Linked DNA regions of Homo sapiens. The protein of the gene in region 1 purifies or fractionates together with the protein of each later gene. This does not show direct contact. Each region holds a gene or a part of one and is shown on either strand. Other genes may lie near its edges. The genes, in order: HACE1 and EIF2AK2.

Region 1 (3,833 bases):
CTGAAAGTGGCAGTGAAGGTATTTGTTAGATAATAATTGGGAAGAATTTCCTGGCAGAATAGTTCAAACATTTTCTAAGGTTCCAAATATGGTTGTATAATCTCCTTCCATGGCGGTCTTTAAAAGAAAGATTATTTCTTTCCTTGAAATATTTTAAAGGTGAGTCTTTCTGTAGCACATGGTGTAGTTTGTAGCATTCTGTAATCATGTCAGATTCAAAAAGTGAGATAAACTTTTATATTTATTTGCAGAAGGATAGCTAATCATTCTCAATAAGAATATTTAAAATAGTGTAGGATGAAGGGATTGTTTAACCACTGTACCACTTATAAACTATTAATCTTTATTTGGGATTAAAAATATCCTAGCAGGTTTTTTTTTTTGTTTGTTTGTTTGTTTTTTTTTTTTTTTTGGAGACAGTATCTCACTCTTTCACCCAGGCTGGAGTATAGTGACATGATCACAGCTCACTGTAGCCTTGACTTCCGAGACTCAAGCAATCCTCCCCCTTCAACCTCCTCAGTAACTGGGACTACAAGTGCATGCCTGTGTACCCAGCTAGAATAATAATAGGAAATAGTTTATTCTCTCCTCATCTTTTTTTTTTTTAATAGAAAGGTGTTAATCTTTACTTGGAATTAAGAATTTGCTACTCAGTATTTTTTTTTTTTTTTTTGAGATGGAGTCTCGCCCTGTCACCCAGGCTGGAGTGCAGTGGTGTGATCTTAGCTCACTGCAACCTCTGCCTCCTGGGTTCAAGTGATCGTCCTGCCTCAGCCTCCCGAGTAGCTGGAATTATAGGTGTGTGCCACCATGTCTGGCTAATTTTTTGTATTTTTAGTAGAGATGGGATTTCAATTCACCATGTTGGCCAGGCTGATCTCGAATTCCTGACCTCAAGTGATCTACCCACCTCGGCCTCCCAAAGTGCTGGGATTACAGGCGTGAGCCACCATCTCCGGCCTGCTAGTCAGTATTTTAATAGAAGTTTGGTAATTGTATCTCTTGTTTTAAAAAAACACTAATTATTAGAAATGGATTGTGTCTGTAAGTATATGTATATACATAAATATGCCACATTTTGTAATTTCTTGTCAAAAATTATCCAAATTCTAGGAATTATATGTAATGAAAGGAGCACAGTAAAAAAGCTGTTCATTAGGTTCTTTAGGGATTCTCATTTTTTAATTGAAAAAAGACATTTGTTTAATTGAAAGTTGTTGACATTGATCATATTAATACAGAAAATGTTGAGTGATTATACTTAGGGGTTCTCATTTTTTAACTGAAAAAATCTTATTTGTTTAATTGAAAGTGGTTGACATTGATCATATTAATACAGTAAATGTTAAGGGTGATTATATATAGTAGTAATGTGTGCTTTTAAAACTAAACATTTGAAAATTAAAAGAAGAAAGATTGTGAATTTTTTGTTAGATTTAGTTTTTCCTTTTTATTACAAGGAATACATACATACAAATTAAATTATTGCCATAAATGAAGAAATTGTCATTTATGTAGCATTTGTATAATTTTATTACTTACCTTTAGGCATTACTATCACGTTAACTTGGGAAGATAGAAATGACTAGAGTAAATTTTCTCTTCTATAATATTTGTCTAGTTGTGTTTTGTTTTTTTTTTTTTAATCCTGTAGTTTAAGAATGATGTTTAAAAAACACTTTTGTTTCTCTCAGCCTCTGGAATTGCTTTGGCACTCGTTAGATGAATGGCTAGTTTTAATAGCCACAGAATTGATGAAAAACAAAAGAGACTCAACAGAGATCACTTCTATTTTACTGAAACAAAAAGGCCAAGATCAAGATGCTGCTTCCATTCCTCCATTTGAACCTCCAGGACCTGGGAGCTATGAAAATCTGTCCACTGGCACAAGGGAATCTAAACCAGATGCTCTTGCAGGGAGACAGGAAGCCAGTGCAGATTGTCAGGATGTTATTTCTATGACAGCTAACCGGCTAAGTGCTGTCATTCAAGCTTTTTACATGTGCTGTTCTTGTCAGATGCCTCCGGGGTAAGAAAGTTTTGGCTTATTATTTTTTTTTTCTCTGATAGATGATGAAAAGCAGTGATACTTTTGTAATTTCAAAAACAACAAATAATAATTTGTTGATTTAAAGTTTTCTCCTTGTTTTAAGATACTCATACTAATCTAGATCTAGTAGGGAATATTTAAATATTAAGCAGTATATATTATTACTTTGTAGAATGGTGAATGTCACCTTGTATAGGATCTCTTAATTATGTATTTGAAATGTGTAGAGCAGAAATGCACCAAATTTCAAGATTTTTAAAAAGTCACTTGTTGATATCGTCTGCTGATGAGAAGTTAGAATCATTTTACAAATTGGCTAGGCATACTTCAGTTTCCTAAACTTACAAAGAAGATTCAAAACCAAATTCTTTTTTTTTTGGTTTAGAAGCCAGTCCAGTTCAGTATATATTTATCAAGTTCGCTATATTATATCACAAACTTTTGCCTGTGTATTCTGATTGATGTTTTCCCCCCACAGAATGACTTCACCTCGTTTCATTGAATTTGTCTGCAAACATGATGAAGTTTTAAAATGCTTTGTTAATAGGTAAGCTTTCTGGGTTTGTGGAGTACCCTGCTAGCCTTTCCTCTCTTTACTTACAGTTTCATCTAAACAGAAAAAATACTATTTCTCGTACTATTCAAAATATGCTCAATAACAAATGAAACTTTAATAGATATGGATTATTATGTGTTTTTCTTCTGTTTCAGTGTCAGTGTATCTGAATTTGCATTTCACTTAATGCTACTCATTCTTCCTGTCCATTTAAACAAAATATTTTTCTTTTAGAAATCCCAAAATTATATTTGACCACTTTCACTTTCTCCTTGAATGTCCTGAGTTGATGTCAAGATTCATGCATATCATAAAAGCACAGGTAGAAATTTTTCTTCATCTTTTTATTCTATCTAATGAAATTAATTTCTAAAATTCTAATACTGTTTAGTGGAATAATTATTACACTTCAGACATTCTGTTGTAAGAGGAATGATTGCATGTTACTTTAATATGAGGAGTAAGTTTTCTTCAAGAAATATGTACTGAGTGCCTACTATGTACAGAGGTCTGTACAAAAACAACAGAACACATTGCCACATTTCCTGAAAGGAGCTTAATGAAACTCTTTAGTTCTATAAGGCTGATTGTCCTTTTGAAAAGGATTTTAGCCCCCAAATACATTTGGGAAATTACATAACATATGCCCTTTGGAAATTTATAAATCACATTGGCAGCATGTTAAAAGGCTTTGAGAAGCCCTTCAGTAAAAATAGTGATTTAGCTTTGTTAATCCTCCTAACTTATTTGACCTGACCACCTTTCCCCTACCAGATGTGTACCTGTTCATTCCATACATCTCATGTTACATGAAGCTAGCTGGAGGAAAGCTTGTTTTGCTCCTTACCAGCTATGTGAACTTTGGGCACGTTTCCTAATATCCTTGAGCCCTTGGTTTCTTCATCTACAAAATGGAGATAATGACAGCAGCCTCATAGAACTATTGTCCAGAATAAATTGTCAGGAATGACTGTGATATATGCTCAATAAATGGTAGTTGTTTTGGAGATAGAAAACTTACTTCCCTTCTCTAAGAGGATTCTAATTCAGTCTGGCTGGGGAGATAATAAACATATGTATAAAATAGTAACTACAACATAACCTGGATCTTTAGGAGTTTAAGGGAGGAAGAGCTGGCTCTGGCATCTGTAGTCAGGGGAAATTTCAGAGGAGGCAGATTTTAAGTTACCTTGAGAAAGCTTGAAAAAATATGCAACATTTTGA
Region 2 (3,468 bases), on another chromosome or scaffold:
GAAAAGCTATTGTGGAATAGGATCTTCTACAAGGATTTAAATATAATCCTACAGAAGAGGTATCAATTATACAGGGGAAAATGTACCTTTACAATGGTCACCACAATAACCAAGTGATTCAATTTAGCATCACCCAAGGTGGAACACCCTAACATTATGCCCCTCCTGATGTGACTTAAGAATTTTACCTATTTAGTTTTCTTGCACAAAGTGTTAAACTGGAATTTAATCATGAGGAAATTATTAGACAAATCCTGAATGTAGTCATTCTATAAGATGATTGACTTGGGCTTCTCAAAAAGTCAGTGTCATGAAAAAAAAAAAAAGGGGAGAGACTTGTAAGATACAATGACCAAATGCAATGTTTGAATCTTTATTGTATTCTGGATATTTAAAAAGACAAAAGCTGGACGCAGTAGCTAATGCCTGTTATCCCAGCATTTTTGGGAGGTCAAAAGGGGAGGATGGCTTGAGCATAGGATTTTGAGACTAGCCTGGGCAACACAGTGAGTTCTCATCTCTACAAAAAATCAGAAAATTAGCTGGGCATGGTAGTGTGCATCTGTGGTCCCAGCTACTTGGGGGGGTGAGGTGGGAGGATCACTTGAGCCTAGGAGGTCAAGGCCGCAGTGAGCCATGATCATGTTACTGCATTCCAGCCTGGGTGACAGAGTGAGATCATATCTAAATAATAATAATAATAAAAGAAAGCAACAACCCAGCAAACAGCTATAAAGATATCTTCGGGACAATTGAGAACATTTGAATATAGACTGCATATTAGATAACAATGCCAAATAACTGTTTTCTCAGGTGTGATAATAGTATATGTAGAAAATGTCTTTTTGTTTTGTTTTATTTTGTTTTTGTTTGTTTGTTTGTTTTGAGACAGAGTCTCACTGTGTCGCCCAGGCTGGAGTGCAGTGGCACGATCTCGGCTCACTGCAACCTCTGCCTCCCAGGTTCAAGTGATTCTCCTGCCTCTGCTTCCTGAGTAGCTGGGATTACAGGTATCTGCCACCACTCCAGGTTAATTTTTTCTATTTTTAGTAGAGACGGAATTTCACCATGTTGACCCAGCTGGTTTTGAACTCCTGACCTCAGGTGATTCACTTGCCTTGGCCTCCCAAAGTGTTGAGATTACAGGCATGAGTCACTGCACCCAGCCAAAAATGTTTTTTTAGGCAATGCATGCACAAACATTTAGAGGCCAAGTGTGTCATGATGTCTGCAACTTTCAATGTTCAGCAAAAATCAACATGGAGAGAGAAAGAGGGCACACATGTGGCAAAATATTAGCCATTGTACAATTGGTAAATCTAGATGACAGTACACAGGTGTTTGTTGTATTATTCTTTGAACTTTTCTGTAGATTTGGAAATGTTCTGCGTAGAGAGAAATCTTTTTTTAAAAAAACAATATCTGGTTTTGATTAATGAGGCTATATTCAAAAGAAACACTAAATGATGTGGCCAGTTAGTGAGAATGTAGCCTTATCTTTACTGACCTCATTTTAATATTCCTACTCTGGCTGGGCATGGTGGCTCACGCCTATAATCCCAGCACTCTGGGAGGCCGAGACGGGTGGATCACCTGAGGTCAGGGGTTCGAGACCAGCCTGGCCAACATGGTGAAACCCCATCTCTACTAAAAATACAAAAATTAGCTGGGTGTGGTGGTAGGCGCCTGTAATCCCAGCTACTCGGGAGTCCGTGGCAGGAGAATCGCTTGAACCCAGGAGGTGGAGGTTGCAGTGAGCTGAGATCACGCCATTGCACTCCAGCCTGGGTGACAAGAGCAAAACTCAGTCTCAAAAAAAAAAAAGAAAAAAAAAGATATATATATTCCTACTCTTATTAAATGAATATAGCATTTCTTAGCAACTTCTTTTGATTTGTGAGTATATATTTTCTTGGCCTCAAAATTAAAGTAAAAAGTATCCTCTTACTCAGAGGAGGACAGGGGCAAGAGCCTGGGACCTTATTTGCTAATTAAAATGCACACACACACACACACACACAGAAATTTTGAGAGCCATTTTAATATAATTGCCTCCCTAGAAACATACCTTTTAGGGAATTTTTATCACTAAACCACATGTTATTTAAATACGTACATGTTTAACATAAATACATACATAAAATTCACATGCATACTTAACACTTATGTTAAATATATTCAATGTATATACATATGTACACAATATATGCATATATACATGTGGGTATGTGGTATGTGTGCATGTGTGTGTATGGCCAGCTACATAATTTGTGGGACTAAGGGCAAAATGAAACTGTACGGCCCTCGTTCAAAAATTAGGTGTGGGGTGCTTCTAAGCACAGTCTTGTGCAACTGCACAGGTTGCATGTCCATGAAGCCATCCTGTGTGTGTGCACATATGTGTATGAATATGTATTTTATATAATACATATATATGCATGTATGTATCTGAGAAGAAATGTTTAAAAGGCTACATACAAGCTTTTCCAGGTCTCTACTATCTGTTAACTAACTAGAGACATAACTCACAATATGCAGTCCCCACTGAGTGTTCACCATAATTTGAGATTCTTGGCATGTTAACTTTTCATTATGGAATATTGAATAATTTCAATATTATTCATACATTTCTTTATGTTCAAACATACACAAAAATAGAATAATGAAACTCTACCCATCACCCAGCTGCAACAAATATCAATACTTTACCGTTCTTAATACATCTAACCCCTTACTTTTTGTTTGTTTCTTTTGGTGAAGTATTTAATTGTAATTTTTTTTTTAAGAGACAGGATCTCACTCTGTCACCCAGGCCAGAGTACAGTGGTACGATCACAGCTCCTTGTAACCTCGAACTCCTAGGCTCAAGTGATCCTCCTGCCTCAGCCGCTTGAATAGCTGGGACTACATGCATACACCAACACACCCAACTAATTTTTAAATTTTTTGTAGAAATATGGTCTTGCTGTGTTTCCCAGGCTGGTCTCAAACTCCTGGCCTTGAGAGATTCTCCTGCCTTGGTCTTCCAAACTGCTGGGATTACAATATCCGGCCCTACTGGAATATTTTAAAGTAAATCTCAGGTGTTACATCATTGCACTTGTAAGTACTTTAAAATGTATCTCTAGCAGATAAATCTTTTTAACAAAACCACAGCATCATTGTCACACTCAAAAAATTGACAAGATTTCCTTAATTATCATATAATAGTCTGTATTGTTTCTATCTCAAAAATACAGTTTTCTTGGTTGTTGAAATCTAGATCCAACATTGCATTTGGTTGATGTGTCTCCTTTACTCTGTAAAATTTACCCCTGCGTTTTAGTTCTTTTCGGCTTTTATTTGTCCTGTGGAATTTCCTCCACTCAGGATTTGACTGAGAGTATCCCCAGAGTGTCCAGTTAGACCTAGAAGCTGGATTTGATCCTGGTTCATTTATTTTCCCCCAAGAATACTCCATAGGTGATG

What was found.
Region 2: the proteins of HACE1 (region 1) and EIF2AK2 purify together in Homo sapiens (affinity purification with western blotting; one study listed by BioGRID). This does not show direct contact.

What each region holds. Positions count from the first base shown.
Region 1 is NC_000006.12:104,783,184-104,787,016, reverse strand, and holds part of HACE1 (E3 ubiquitin-protein ligase HACE1), read left to right. Parts: intron 1-1,697; coding exon 1,698-2,032; intron 2,033-2,531; coding exon 2,532-2,600; intron 2,601-2,843; coding exon 2,844-2,931; intron 2,932-3,833. UniProt on the Homo sapiens protein: E3 ubiquitin-protein ligase involved in Golgi membrane fusion and regulation of small GTPases. Acts as a regulator of Golgi membrane dynamics during the cell cycle: recruited to Golgi membrane by Rab proteins and regulates postmitotic Golgi membrane fusion.
Region 2 is NC_000002.12:37,101,557-37,105,024, reverse strand, and holds part of EIF2AK2 (interferon-induced, double-stranded RNA-activated protein kinase), read left to right. Parts: 3' UTR 1-3,468.